Homo sapiens: one gene and its partners. The protein of the gene in region 4 purifies or fractionates together with the protein of the main gene of each other region. This does not show direct contact. Each region holds a gene or a part of one and is shown on either strand. Other genes may lie near its edges.

Evidence for each region.
Region 1: the proteins of ARHGDIB (region 4) and WSB1 purify together in Homo sapiens (affinity purification with western blotting; one study listed by BioGRID). This does not show direct contact.
Region 2: the proteins of ARHGDIB (region 4) and SUMO4 fractionate together in Homo sapiens (co-fractionation; one large-scale study listed by BioGRID). This does not show direct contact.
Region 3: the proteins of ARHGDIB (region 4) and CS fractionate together in Homo sapiens (co-fractionation; one large-scale study listed by BioGRID). This does not show direct contact.

What each region holds. Positions count from the first base shown.
Region 1 is NC_000017.11:27,300,340-27,304,431, reverse strand, and holds part of WSB1 (WD repeat and SOCS box-containing protein 1), read right to left. Parts: intron 2,645-4,092; coding exon 2,476-2,644; intron 1,066-2,475; coding exon 797-1,065; intron 1-796. UniProt on the Homo sapiens protein: Probable substrate-recognition component of a SCF-like ECS (Elongin-Cullin-SOCS-box protein) E3 ubiquitin ligase complex which mediates the ubiquitination and subsequent proteasomal degradation of target proteins.
Region 2 is NC_000006.12:149,398,857-149,401,778, reverse strand, and holds SUMO4 (small ubiquitin-related modifier 4), read right to left. Parts: upstream 1,518-2,922; 5' UTR 1,388-1,517; coding exon 1,100-1,387; 3' UTR 501-1,099; downstream 1-500. Other genes in the region: TAB2 (TGF-beta-activated kinase 1 and MAP3K7-binding protein 2), read right to left, coding at 2,595-2,675. UniProt on the Homo sapiens protein: Ubiquitin-like protein which can be covalently attached to target lysines as a monomer. Does not seem to be involved in protein degradation and may modulate protein subcellular localization, stability or activity.
Region 3 is NC_000012.12:56,276,144-56,280,235, forward strand, and holds part of CS (citrate synthase, mitochondrial precursor), read right to left. Parts: intron 53-4,092; coding exon 1-52. UniProt on the Homo sapiens protein: Key enzyme of the Krebs tricarboxylic acid cycle which catalyzes the synthesis of citrate from acetyl coenzyme A and oxaloacetate.
Region 4 is NC_000012.12:14,954,817-14,958,908, forward strand, and holds part of ARHGDIB (rho GDP-dissociation inhibitor 2), read right to left. Parts: intron 1,518-4,092; exon of another isoform or gene 1,360-1,517; intron 1-1,359. UniProt on the Homo sapiens protein: Regulates the GDP/GTP exchange reaction of the Rho proteins by inhibiting the dissociation of GDP from them, and the subsequent binding of GTP to them. Regulates reorganization of the actin cytoskeleton mediated by Rho family members.

The DNA of each region.
Region 1 (4,092 bases), on a different chromosome or scaffold from region 4:
CTTTAAAATATAAAATCAAATTATTTCTTTGCTTGTTATTTCCCTGGCCTAGGAATGTTAAGCTCCTCAAAAGATACAAGTTATCCCACAACTTTAGTTTTCAAACATGATCCCAGTGAAAAAAAATGTATTTAACTAATAATGTAAGAGCTTTGTTTTCTAAGACAATCTATGTGTTCATCTTGTTTTTTTCAAGAACCCAAATTTTGACTCATTATCACCTATGTTAGTATCACTTGTTATGTTCTAATGTACATGTTCTTTTAATGCTTCTTTAAAAATCCTTTATGTTTTTGAGTACATATTATATGCCAGAAAGTGTTTTAGGCAATAAGCAACACATTTATTTCTAGTTGCCCAAAGAATTTAACTTCTCAATCTATCTAAACTTTCACTAAACCTTTCCAAGGTGAGATGATTACTGAAATCTGATTTACCTCGAAAACCTCTAAGCTATCAATCATTGAAAAAGCATAAACAAAGAAAACACCTTGACATGTGAGTCATTAACTAAATAACTAGTTTATAAAGGACAACTAACTAAACATTCCCTGGAAAACCCTTTCCTACTGTAATACTCTCTAAAGAGTGATGAAGCAATATGAACTCCATAGTTTTCCTAAATTAAAATCATGAGCTGAAGAAGGTGACATTCAGGTCTATTATAAAGACGCACCTATGCCATCAATTCTTGCTTTTCAGTAAGCTGAAATCCTCAAATCCCAATTCCAGTGCCTATAAGCAGTGCCCTGCATCATAAAATAATACATTTGCTTTAAAAACTATGAATCCATACCTGTATATACATCCCATATTTTGATACGCCCATTGTTCAACCCTGTAGCAAGAAGTAGCTGATCTTGTCCAAATCTGAAGCGATGCCATTCTATATTTACACAGCGACTCTGTTTTTCTGGAACTGATGACCCAAAAGCAAGACTCCAGACTATATCTCCACAGTCTATAATATGTTCACGAGGCTTATTTTTCTGACCACCATCACTATTTTGTCTTGGCAATCTTAAACTGCTTGAATTGGTAACATTCTTGGTGCCATGCAAGAGACTGGAGTGGGGGAAGTCAGATGGAAATTGTATTATTATTCACTCTGGACTCCTCTGGACATTGAATAATTACAAGTGTTTGTTAAAATAACCTCAATATTATTATAATGACACCAAATAACAATAGAATCCTATAGATAGGAAGGGAAAGGTTGATATTTGAACTACGAGAGAAGGACATTAATAGAAATTCTCAGTGACTGAGTAGTAAGTTCAACAATAAAGCAATTTATATTATAACTTATTTGCCTCCCAAATTTTCCTCAAAACCACCGAATCAACTGGTGCTCCTTCAACCTAAAAACACAAGTATAAATAAGCAAAAAACAAACAAACAAACAAAAAAACCCAGTAACTTAAGATATGGTCAAGCTGATATCAGAAAATTGCCTTAAAGGGGGAAAAAAATCCTCAAACCATAATGATCAGTTTCCCATAGGTTCCAGACCTCAAGTTATATGTAATGAGAACATTAGTGACTATAACCATGAAGGTCTGCTAGACACAAAAAAAACAGGGAAAGATCCAATATAGCACATGATACATTTTAGAAAAACTTTCAACAAACATCCAAACTCAATTTACCCCAAACAGAGGGACTATAAGTCCATTAAAAACAAAAACAACAACAACAACAACAAAGGGCCAGGCTCGGTGGCTCACGCCTGTAATCCCAGCACTTAGGGAGGCTGAGGAGGGTGGATCACCTAAAGTCAGGAGTTCGAGACCAGCCTGGCCAACACGGTGAAACCCCTGTCTCTACTACTATGCACCAGGGTTATCCAACAAAATGTAAAATCCAAAGTGAATCCAAAAAGCTTCACATCACAGAAGTCACCTACTCTGGCACAACACTATATATATATATACACTTGTTAGACACAATCTGACTTTTAACATACAGAAAAACTTAATGTATAAATAACACCAGACAATTCTTTTTTTTTTTTTTTTTTTGAGACATTATTTGGCTCTGTCACCCAGGCTGGAGTGCAGTGGTGCTATCTCGACTCACTACAACCTCCGGCTCCTGGGTTCAAGCAATTCTTCTGCCTCAGCCTCCCGAGTAGCTGGGACTACAGGTGTGCCACACCACGCCCAGCTAGTTCTTGTATTTTCAGTAGAGATGGGGTTTCACCATGTTGGCCAGGCGGGTATCAAACTCCTGACCTCAAGTGATCTGCCTGCCTTGGCCTCCCAAAGTGCTGGGATTATAGGCCTGAGCCGCCGCGCCCGGCCCAAAGAATTCTTTACACAAAATTTCCAATAAATATATTCAGCCCATGATTAAAACTCACGACATCATCTATAAAGTAAAACTTAAATATCAAAATGTTTTTATTACCCTACACTGAGAGAAAATGGTAAATTCCACAAACAGATACAAAATACAGAAAAGTAACAGTCTTACAAGTTCTGAAGGCACTGGGACCACGGAACAAGCTTTACTGTGCGATGTCCTTGTGACCAAGCAAAGTATGAACCATCTGGAGCAAAAGCAACAGTCCAATTTTCACGACCACATTTCTTGTCAAAAGGAGCTGCAGGAGCTAAAAGTTCACCTATAGTACGTAATCTCACTAAAAGGAAAAATAAAAATACTGGATATCATATATAACCAACAATACATGTGAGACTGCTTCCATATTACTTTGGGATTGAGTTTCTTCCCTCTTCTATGCAGACAGGGTATAGTGAGTTCTGCATTCCATCCTCTAACGGGGGGTATGCAGTATATGAAGACCCCTTAACGATAATGACTATCTCCAAGTTTTGATAAAGTGATTTCCCTAAAATTTCCCAATGCAAGAGTTTTTAAGAAAGTTTCCGTAAAAAAAACTGGTCAATAATAATGTAATGACCAATTAGACCTAACAATTACAAAAGTCCTAACTTTTGCATTGTATTACGTTCTCATCAAATTATTAACATTTAAAATGCAAGAAATTAAACTTAGTTGGCAGGAAAAGTATCTTCCAAATTAAGTTTCTTAGCTTTCAAAAACCATACCTCACCATAAAATACAATATTACACCATTACTCAAAGGAAAGCACTACAAAATACACTATCCAAACAAGTATTTTTACCCTTTTCAGGCCCAGGTCACAAAAATCACAAAACCCTCAGAACTAGAAGAGACTTACAGGTTGTCTAGTCCAACCCTCCAAACCAGTGCTTTAAAAAGGCATTATAGGCCGCGTGTGGTTGCTCACACCTGTAATCCCAACATTCTGGGAGGCCAAGACAAGCGGATCACTTGAGGTCTGGAGTTTGAGACCAGCCTGGCCAACATGGTTTGAAACCCTGTCTCTACTAAAAATACAAAAATTAGCTGGGCGTGGTGGTGGGCGCCTGTAATCCCAGGATGAAGCAGGAGAATTGCCTGAACCCAGGAGGCGGAAGTTGCAGTAAGCCAAGAAAGTGCCACTGCACCCCAGCCTGGGCGACAGAGTGAGACTCCATCTCAAAAAAAAAATAAGCTAAAATAAAAGAAAATGCATTATAGCCGGGCATGGTGGTATGCTGGAGTGTGTCTGTAATCCCAGCTTCTTGGAAGGCTGAAGCATAAGAACTGTTTGAATCTTGGAGGTGGAGACTGCAGTGAGCCAAGACTGCATCACTGCACTCCAGCCTGGGTGACAGAGCAAGACTGTCATAAAAAAAAAAAAACAAAAAAAACCAAAATGCATTATATTTGTGATTCTCAAATACTGGTCCTTAAGAGTCTTCCTAATAGGCCTCAAACTGACTCAAAAATGGAATTATTTTGGTTTTTAAGGACAAAAAATGGACAATGTCATATATTTTAAATTCAGATTACTCAAATTTTGTATTCCTAACAAAAATTGGCATATTACCAGAGTATATGGAGAATATTACTTCCATATTTAACAAAAAGCATGATCAACAAGCTCATACTGCAATGCATGCATGCAAACTCAGCTACAATTTCCTCAATTTGGGGAAAGGAGCCTCTTTATCAGTGTATCACCTATTTTGGGTTGGTCTTAATTTTCCCTATTACCT
Region 2 (2,922 bases), on a different chromosome or scaffold from region 4:
TTAGAAAAAATACGTGGAATGATTTCTATCTTCTTAGGTTTGTTTAAACTCGTTTTGTGAACTAACATATGATCTATCCTACAGAATGTTCCGTGTGTGCTTGTTCAAATCAGCTGTTTCTTTATTCATTTTCTGCCTGGATATTCTATTATTGTAAGGGGGGTATTGAAGTCTCCTACTATTGCTGTCAATTTCTGTCGTCAGAACTGTCATTATTTGCTTTACATATTAATGTAGTCTGATGTGGGGTGTGTATATATTTATAATTTTTATATTTTTCTGTGGAATTGATCCTTTTACCATTACATAATAATCTTTGTCTCAAGTTTTAGACTTAAAAATCTATTGTTTCTGATATAATTATAGCCACTTTTGATTTCTTTTAGCTACCATTTATATAAAATCTTTTTCCATCCCTTCACTTTCTGCCTATGTGTGTCTTTAAATATAAAATGAGTCTCTTGTAGATAGTATATTATTGGATCCTGTTTTTATTTTTATTTCATTTTAAACAAAAAGTTTATTTAAATAAGAAGCCTGACTTGAAGGAAAAACTTTCTAGGATTCTTTCTTTTTTTTTTAGAGTAATTTATCCCTACTTAAAGACAGATTGCCCTACATGTAACAGCTATGTACACAAAAGTTATAAAATTGTCCTTGGTTTTACAATGATAAATGAAAAACATGAAAATCCTCCAATTGAACAAGGTATGTGAGAATTTTTTTTTGTTGTTGTTAAAACAGTGAGAGCAAAATAACTTACTAGAATATAAAGATAAGACCTGAATGAACATGCCACTAATGGATAAAGGGGGTATTTTCACAGAATCAGTATTTTTTCCCATCCTGTCTCCACTTGATGTCAATCAAAACATACCATTGGCTGTTTGGTTTGAAGAAAAAAGCAATATGCTTGTGTACACATACCAGTTACTTCATGTATAATAAAAGAATGTGGAAGGGGGAAACAAAAGAATAGAGAAAACTATACTGTAGTAGTCAGAATGTGGTGGAACCAAATTGCAGTTTTCTAATTGAGAATGCAGTAATCTTGGTCTTTAAAGAACAGCGTTCTGGAGTAAAGAAGCAGGTTCCCTTTTCAGTAGACACCTCCCGTAGGCTGTTGAAACACATCAATTGTATCTTCATCTTCCATTTCCAACTGTGCAGGTTTGTCTGTTCCACTGATTGGTTGCCCACCAAATCGGAATCTGATCTGCTTCACTGACAATCCCCGTGGTTCACAATAGGCTTTCATTAGTTTACTAAGTGGTGTCTGCCTCTTAATCTTAAACTGCACCACAGAACCATCCTGTCCCGCCACCTTCAAATTAATATGATTGTTGTTCTCAGTCTTGACTTCTTCTGTGGGCTTTTCGTTGGCCATGGTGAACACCGGAGTCTCCTCAGCTGCTGCTTCACAAAAGAGGTGGCGGGTCCGCACCTAACGAGTACACGAGCAGCAGGAAGAGCAGCAGGAGGTGACAGCGGTGGATGAGGGAGAGGGTGCGTGCACATCCTGGGCTCCCTCCCCTCCCGCTGTGTGCGCCAGCACGAGCTGTTGGGGCCTCCCATTGGCTGCTGCCAGATCCTGTTTTTAAAATCCATTCATACAACTCCTTGTGAGTGGTGAGTTTAATCCATTTCCAGTTAAGGTAATTACTAATAAGTGAGGACTTACTATTGGCAGTTTGTTGCTTCCTGTCTATTTGACAACTGTTTTGCTCCTCTTTTCCTCTTATTGTCTTGTTATTCGACAACGTTTAATCGTGATTTACTTTGATTATATTTGGTTATACTCTTCTATTTTAAGTTGATAACAACTTAACTTCAAATGCATACAAAAATACTACTGCATCTTTACAACCTCCACCCTCCCACACTTTTGTGTTCTTGCAGTTTTCTTCTTTTAATATTATGTATCCATTAACACATTTTTACCTTTTAACTTTCTTATTAGAGTTGAAAGTAAATTATATACCACGGTTAAGTGTTAATCTGTAAATATGTCTATATTTTTACCTTCAGCAGTGATATTTATGTACCTGTTTCCATTTCTACACACATTTTAATGCCTGGATCAAAACACACAGACATACTTTGAAATGTCTTAGTTTGGTGTGCATATATTCTGAGAATATCAATGATGTAAAATGATAGAAGGTAGAAAACTATTCACCTGGAATTTAGGGTATTTTGATTACTTAAAGTTATATATAAATTAAACTAAATACTCATGGGGGGGGGGAACTTCCCTAAGGTATCTTCCTTATCATTTGTCTAAAGTTTTAAATGATACAAATTTTTGTACTTAGTAATTGTTTTTTAACCAAGACTTGCTATTATTGGTTGGGAGTACATAGTGTTTCCTAAGCTCGTGCATATTACTTTTAAAAAGCTAAGAATATTACATCTTTGCATCCTTCCCAACCCCAAGCATGTAAATGAAAATAAGCAAACATCTTCTTAATGAATTCATTTAAGAATGCCAAAGTTTGAAGCAATTCTAGAGAGGAAGGTTGCTGAACAGGAAAAATTTTCTAAAATTTTGCTTTTCAAAAGTAACAGTTTTCACATTTAATGGATACACTAACCTTTGGGTTTTGGTGGCACAGGACCTACAAATCCAATATTGTCATAAAAGTTATGAATAGCGCTGGGGTTAAAATGTGGTCCTGAAATATATAAAAAGTAAATATATCAATGCTTATAGCTCAAAAACAACTTTACTTTTTAAAACAAGTATTTCTTTCTAAAAATAAACACGCTATAAGAAATGCTTTTCATTTATTTTGCCCCTCTAACCTCGAATTATATGTAAGATTTCAAAACATATTTCAAATATATTATCTTAGGTATAATGTAGTACTCATAAACACGGGTAAGTGGTAAACTGTGAAAGAAGTCAAATTAATGCTGGTA
Region 3 (4,092 bases), about 41 Mb from region 4:
CTGCAACACAAGGTAGCTTTGCGATTAGATCCATAGAGTCTTCATAAATCAACTGACAGAAGAGGAGCAAGATGGAGAAAAAAAAAGGAATTATCAGCAAAGAAGAATTAGGCAGGGATATCGTCTGTCCTCCATGAATTGGGGCTATTTGGGTTGATGGTTAGTTATATGATGGGTTGTTATATATTGAGTATGTTTGAAAGTAGAGAATAACAATCATAACCATTTCACTGAATAACTATTATGACCCAGGCACTAAGTGATTTGTAATACTATCTAATGTACACTAAAACATTATTCCCAATGCTTACTACTACAAAGTATATAATGACTGCCATTTTAAAGATGAGTAAACTAAGGCTCATAGTATTAGGTTAAATGCTAAAGTCAAGTTTGAACTCTGATATGGTTTTCTGAGACAGAGTTTCACTCTTGTTGCCCAGGCTGGAGTGCAATGGCGCAATCTTAGCTCACTGCAACCTCCGCCTCCCAAGTTCAAGTGATTCTCCTGCCTCAGCCTCCTGAGTAGCTGGGATTACAGGCATGTGCCACCATACCCGGCTAATTTTGTATTTTTAGTAGAGACGGGGTTTCTCCATGTTGGTTAGGCTAGTCTAGAAACTCCCGACCTCAGGTGATCTGCCTGCCTTGGCCTCCCAAAGTGCTGGGATTATAGGTGTGAGCCACCATGCCTGGCCCTCTGATATGTTTAATCATGATCTTTTTCACTACACCATGACTTGACGTTCAATGTGTTAAGACAGCAGGTTTTACAGCCAGACACGGCAGCTCATGCCTATAATGCCAGCACTTTGGGAGGCTGAGGCTGGCAGATCATTTGAGGTCAGGAGTTCAAGACCAGCCTGGCCAACATGGTGAAACCTGGTCTCTTCTAAAAACACAAAAAATCAGCCAGGCGTGGTGTGGGCCGGCGCCTATAATCCCAGCTACTCGGGAGGCTGAGGCAGGAGAATTGCTTGAACCCGGGAGGTGGAGGTTGCAGTGAGCCGAGATAGTGCCACTGCACTCCAGCCTGGACCACAGAGCGAGACTCTGTCTAAAAAAAAAAAAAGGGGTCGGGCACAGTGGCTCATGCCTGTAATCCCAGCACTTTCGGAGGCCGAGGCAGGCAGATCATGAGGTCAGGAGATCGAGACCATCCTGGCTAACACGGTGAAACCCCGTCTCTACTAAAAATACAAAAAATTAGCCAGGCGTGGTGGTGGGCGCCTGTAGTCCCAGCTACTCGGGAGGCTGAGGCAGGAGAATGGCGTGAATCTGGCAGGTGGAGCTTGCAGTGAGCCAAGATCGTGCCACTGTACTCCAGCCTGGGCGACAGAGTGAGACTCCGTCTCAAAAAATAAAAAAAAAAGACACTAGGTTTTAATAATGAATTCTATGTTCCATCTTTCAAAGAAAATTCACTGTATGTGCCAAGGATCAAACAGTGATATGCAATTGTTATTTAATAACAAAGACTTCCATTCTTTTTTTTTTTTTTTTTTGAGATGGATTCTCGCTCTGTCGCCGAGGCTGGAGTACAGTGGCGCGATCTCGGCTCACTGCAAGCTCCGCCTCCCGGGTTCACGCCATTCTCCTGCCTCAGCCTCCTGAGTAGCTGAGATTACAGGATGCACCACCATGCCTGGCTTAATTTTGTATTTTTAGTAGAGGGGGGTTTCACCATGTTGGTCAGGTTAGTCTTGAACTCCCGACCTCAGGTGATTTGCCCACCTTGGCCCCTCAAAGTTCTGGGATTACAGGAGTGAGCCACCGCACCCGGCCGAGGCTTCCATTCTTTAAGCACTTACTATGCAACAGGTACTGTGCTATCTATTTGCAGTATTACTTTTTCTTTTCTTACAATAATCCTGTAAGGTAACATATACCTCTTTTTATAAATGAGGAAATTGGGGCTTAGCTAAGTTAACTTGCACAAGGTCACCCATGTAGCCAAGAAGCGTTACCTAGCTTACATTATTAACTCATGCCACTTTTATTTTTTGAGACGGAGTCTCACCCTGTCGCCCAGGCTGGAGTGCAATGGTGCGATCTCAGCTCACTGCAACCTCCGCCTCCGGGGTTCAAGCGATTCTTGTGCCTTGGCCTTCTGAGTAGCTGGGATTACAGGCGTGCGCCACCATGCCTAATTTTTTGTATCTTTAGTAGAGATGGGGTTTCACCATATTGGCCAGGCCGGTCTCAAACTCCTGACCTCAGGTTATCCACCTTCCTCGGCCTCCCAAAGTGCTGAGATTACAGGCGTGAGCCACTGCACCCAGCCCATGTCACTTTTTAAAAAGTTGATAAACAGGCCAAGCACGGTGGCTCACACCTGTAATCCCAGAACTTTGGGAGGCTGAGGAGCGCGGATCAAGAGGTCAACAGATCAAGACCATCCTGGCCAACAAGGCAAAACCCCATCTCTACTAAAAATACAAAAATTAGATGGGCGTGGTGGCTTGCACCTGTGGTCCCAGCTACTCGGGAGGCCAAGGCAGGAAAATTGCTTGAACCTGGGAGGCGGAGGTTGCAGTGAGCCGAGGTCGTGCCACTGCACTGCAGCCTGAGCGACAGAGACTCTGTCTCGGAAAAAAAAAAAAAAAGTTGGTAAATAAAAAGCATATATTTTTGGTTTATTTTATTTTGAGACAAAGTCTCGCTCTGTCACCCAGGCTGGAGTGTAGTGGTGCTATCTTGGCTCACTGCAACCTCTGCCTCCTAGGTTCAAGCGATTCTCCCACCTCGGCCTCCTGAGTAGTTGGGATTACAGGTGTGCACCAGGACGCTCAGCTAATTTTTGTATTATTTTGTAGAGATGGGGTTTCGCCATGTTGGCCAGACTGGTCTTGAACTCCTGACCTCAAGTGATCTGCCTGCCTTGGCCTCCCAAAGTGCTGGGATTACAAGCATGAGTCCCCACGCCTGGCCTACTAGCAAAACTTGATCTGTCAGCTACTTCACAAATTTGACTAAATTCAACAGCTTAAGGCTACTTCACAATTAAACAGCTGGTTGCATCAGAGCAATCAATCTCCTTGTTCTGAGTGACCTTAAGTCAATTAGAGGCCTAGAAGCTAGTTAAACTCTTTCAACTCAAGAGATTACACTATTCATCTAGAGTTAATGGAAATTATTATAGAAGAAATGTTCTGTGCAGAAGATCATCCTCTTAAGGTATATGTAAAAACAACTCCTTAAAAGCTCAAGAAGGCTGGGCACCATGGCTCACTCCTATAATCCCCAGCACTTTGTGAGGCCGAGGCAGGCAGATCACAAGGTCAGGAGTTCAAGATCAGCCTGGCCAACACAGTGAAACCCCGTCTCTATTAAAAACACAAGGCCAGGCGCGGTGGCTCACGCCTGTAATCCCAGCACTTTTGGAGGCTGAGGCGGGTGGATCACGAGGTCAGGAGATCGAGACAATCCTGGCTAACACGGTGAAACCCCGACTCTACTAAAAATACAAAAAATTAGCCAGGCATGGTGGCGGGTGCCTGTAGTCCCAACTACTCGGGAGGCTGAGGCAGGAGAATTGCTTGAACCAGGGAGGCGGAGCTTGCAATCAGCTGAGATCGCACCACTGCACTCCAGCCTGGGCAACAGAGCGAGACTCCATCTCAAAAAAAAAACCAAAAAAAAACAAAACAAAAGCAAAAAAGCAAAAACCAAAAATTAGCCAGGCGTGGTGGTGCGCACCTGTAGTCCCAGCTACCGGGGAGGCTGAGGCAGGAGAATCGCTTGAACCCAGGAGGCAGAGGTTGTGGTGAGCTGAGATTGTGTCACTGCACTCCAGCCTGGGCAACAGAGCGAGACTCCATCTCAAAAAACAAAACAAAACAAACAAACAAAAAGGCCCAGGGTGGTGGCTCACGCCTATAATCCCAGCACTTTGGGGAAGAGGTGGGCGAATCACCTGAGGTCAGGAGTTCTGGACCAGCCGTTCTAGACCAGCCTAGCCAACATGGTGAAACTCTATTAAAAAGACAAGGCCAGGCGTGGTGGCTTAAGCCTGTAATCCCAGCACTTTGGGAGGCCGAGGTGGGCAGATCACGAGGTCAGAGGTTCGAGACCAGCCTGGCCAACATAGTG
Region 4 (4,092 bases):
GACATTAGCTGCTCTTGGCACAGAAACAAAAAAAGGGTAACTACGTGAGATGATGGATATGTTGATTTGCTTCACTAACATTTTTACTATCGATGTGTGTCCCTAAACATTATGTTGTATACCTTAAATATATGCAATAAAATTCATCTTTAAAAGGAAATTTAAAAATTAAAAAATAAAATGTATGTGAATCCCCAACAGATGCTGCATATTTTATTTTATTTTATTTTACTTATTTTTCTCCCAGACATAAAATTATTTTTCTTTCACTGAACAGGTCTTTGCATAATAAAGGGTACCATAATAGTAATAGCAAATTGTTACTGAACACTTGTGAGCCAAAAACTCAGTTAGTACGGGATAAGTGCTTGGCATGCATTATTTCATTCAGTCATCGCAATGTTGTGAGGTAGGCACAATTACATTTTACAAGTGCAAAAACTAAGACATAGAAGAAAATATTAAATATTTCAATTACACAAGCATTTAAAATTCCTTTCCTAATATCACCCTATAGACAGTGAAAAGAGTAATGGTCTGGATTCTAAAAATGAGACATTCGCAATGCATGTATTAACAAGAGATTGATATCGGGAATACATAAATACCTCCTATGAATCAATTTCTTAAAAAGTATTTATTGTATATATTTAAGATGTAAAATATGTCTGGGATACATAGATAGTGAAAAGGTTACTATAGTCAAGCAAATTAACATATCCATCATCTCACCCACTTTTTTTTGTGTGTGGCAAGAGCACCTAAAATCTACTCTTCAGCAAAACTCAAGTACAATACAATATTATTAAGCATTGTACTGCATTTTTAACGTTATTTCTGGGTAACCTCAGTTTCTCCCGAAGCCCCAGCCATAAATGGCATATACAGTTTGACAATGATTTCTCAAATTATCTGTGTGCATATTTAACCACAAACAACAATTTTCTCTTTTTATCCTCCTATTTTATGGATGTGTGTTGAAATGAGAATAGGAATTTTATGAAAATTCTACAGACTGTTTTCCAATCCCATCATCTAAAGGACAACTGATTTTCCTATTGATAATATTGATATTATTAATACAAATTATAATAGTTATCACATGTAGTGCTAAGTGCTTTCTAGAGGATTATCTCATTTAGTTCTTACAGTAACTTTGTTGGCATCATCATTCTCTTTTCCAGACCAGGAAACTAAAGTTCACGTTAAGTAACTTGCCTAAGAAGACATACCACGTGGTAGGCAGAATTAATGTCTGCGCCCAGGTTGTCTGACTTTTAGGCACTATGCTTTATTGCTTCAGTCATCTTTAAGAAGTTATAATAAAATTAGAGTTTGTTAGTCATCTTGGGAATCTACCTGGAGGTGCACAAGCAGAGGTAAATGCTTCTTTGCAAGCTCTGCAGAGACAGCTTTAACAAAGCAGGGAAGTGTCAGATAACGATGTTTCAGCGCAACTCGGTTCCTGCGTTACCTCCTGCAAGTTGCTTAACCTCACTGGGCCCCAGTTTCATCCTCTGCAAAAAGAAGCCGTGGCATGAGAGGATCTCTGAGGCCCCTTCTTAATTTAATGACTCAAATGCTCCCTAATTTAAAGAAGCTTGTGAAATGAGAAAAGAAAAGAGGAAGTAAAAGGGAGATTGGGGAGGACTCAGCCCATCAGCATAGAATCTTCTGGATGGGCTTTCCTCACCTTCCTCAGCTGCTCATCCCCTATTCTACAAAGGGCAGAGCTGAGTTTTGCTTATTTTTGACTTTGGTCCTTTGCACAGGAAAAATGAAATGGAGAATGAACAGTTATATGTTTAACCAGGTTAATGTGGACCCCATTTATTAGGCCCCAAAGCACATATCATTTTTTCACACAGGCTTGCTACTCTAGTTTTCTGTATTTTCTGCTTCACAGATGCGCATACAGATTAACTTTCACATTGGAGGCCTCACATCCTCATGTTTGCTACTCAGCAAAGCACTGGCAAGCATTAGATGTGCTGAGATGGGGACTTAATCTTCTCAGGCTCAATTAAAATGTCGAATTAAATTAGGATGGTTACTCACAGCATGCATATGACATAGCACACATCAATGTTTTTGCTTGCAAATTCAGTGAAATTTCCAAGACTTTGAAAGTGAATTACACTTAAAAATTTACACCCATGTCAGGATAGAGCATCATCTGTTTCATTAATGCAGCTCTAAATGAACTGAGGACAAGAAAAGGTAGAACTCCTGAGTTTAGATTAAACAAATTACCTGGGTAATTCAGAGAAAGGTGACTTTCATGTCTCATAGAACATAGATTGAGTCAGATGGACCAGGGATTCAAAACCAGGCTCTGCATTATGACAGGACTCAATCAAGTTGCTAATTTCACTGAGCCTCAGTTTTATCACCACTAAAATGGGGATATTCTTTTTTACGGGGTTGAAAGATTGGAGAAAACACATGAAAAATTATAGGACTATACTGGTCAAGAATAGATGTTCCGTGAATATTTGTTCCCTTCCTCTTCTTCCTTCCCTGCCCCAGTGTGGTCTGCTTTGTTGCAAAGCTTCACTGAAGCTAGGTAACTGTTTCCACACCAAATACTTTCCCCTGGATGGGAGCTATGTCCCCACTCCTTCCTCCTTAAAAATAGATTTTTGTCTTTGAGGAGTATTAAAGAGATAAGAAGTTCTGGGGAATTGAAAGGATTGTTTAAAAACTGAATCAACCTTAAAATGAGACTATATTATATTTCTTTTAAAAACTTTCATGTAAACAATTTAATTTTAGGTTTTATTTATTGCTCCCTGTCTTCATTGAAGCCAGAGGTCACTCTGCGAATGATGAGAAATGTCAGTGAACACAGGCACAGCTAATGAAGAGAATTCCCTCTGGCTCTGGAGCAAAATACCACAGAGACTTAACTCACGGCCCAAAGCTGGATCTGCAAAATTGTGCTGGATTATGCATCTAGACACACAGGCCATGGATATTAATGTATTAGGTAGAAGAGATAGCGATGAGAGAGAGAGAAGGAAGAGGGGAAAGAGGGAGAGAGAAAGAGGAGAGAGAGAGGAGGGAGAAGGGAGAAAGAGAGAGAGGGAAGAGAGAGAGAAAAGTGGAAATACCAGAAGTAGGGGATTTCTATCAGAGAAGTTCCTATGTGAGCATCAGCATTCTCTGTAACTCCTGCTACCTCCACTTTCCCTGCTGACTAGGATATGTCTGACTTCCCCCAAATCGGGCTGTGGGTCTAGTGCAGGTCTGGAGAGTCAGGCCATCTCTAAAACACTGTTGACATTTCAGAGCTAGTCAAGGATTTGAATGTGCTGTGCTGCTTGCCTGGCAATTTGGTGTATTACGGGATTGCAAATTTGTCTCTCAGGACACCAGAAGCCTTCTTGGTTCGGGATTCCACCCTCTCCCCACCGCCCCTGTCCCTGGTGACATGGAGGAATCCATACTCCCCACTTTGCGGTGCTGCTTTCTACCACCTCAGCCCCATGAAGGACTACGAAAACTTCAAAACTGGATGAGAAAAACCAAAGACAAGATTATTTTGTAAGAGACAATAAATATTGTAATCAATCCAGAGAAGGGCACAAATTACTAGAAACGTAATTTCTTACCATTTGTCTTTGTGAGAGAAACAATTTATTATTTCTTGCCTGTGCATTTTTTAGTGTGTTTTTCTAACCCACATTCATATGCACAAAGAGAGAGAACTCAAAGAGATCCCGTGAGCTTTGCTGAGTGCCCAACGTGTGAAGTCATGCCACCAAGTACCTTCACAAATATTATTTTAAATAATTCTCAAAGAAAACTGTGCATTAAGGAAGCCATTGCCTTCAGTATCTCAATATATTCACAAAAGTTTTAAATTAGCATGAAAAGTTAGACAGAATTGAGAGAGAATTTTTTTTATGACCGTTTGTGCTAAGATTATTAGGCTCTTTAAGAAAGCCCAAGTGAATTTTTACCAGCGGTAAAATTCACTCTTTGGCTGTGGACACCAGAGAGTAACACAACACAGGATGATTCAGGATGTGCTTATTGCACAGATAAATGTTGCTGACGTTTCAGGGGCAACATGAGACTCATCTCTGG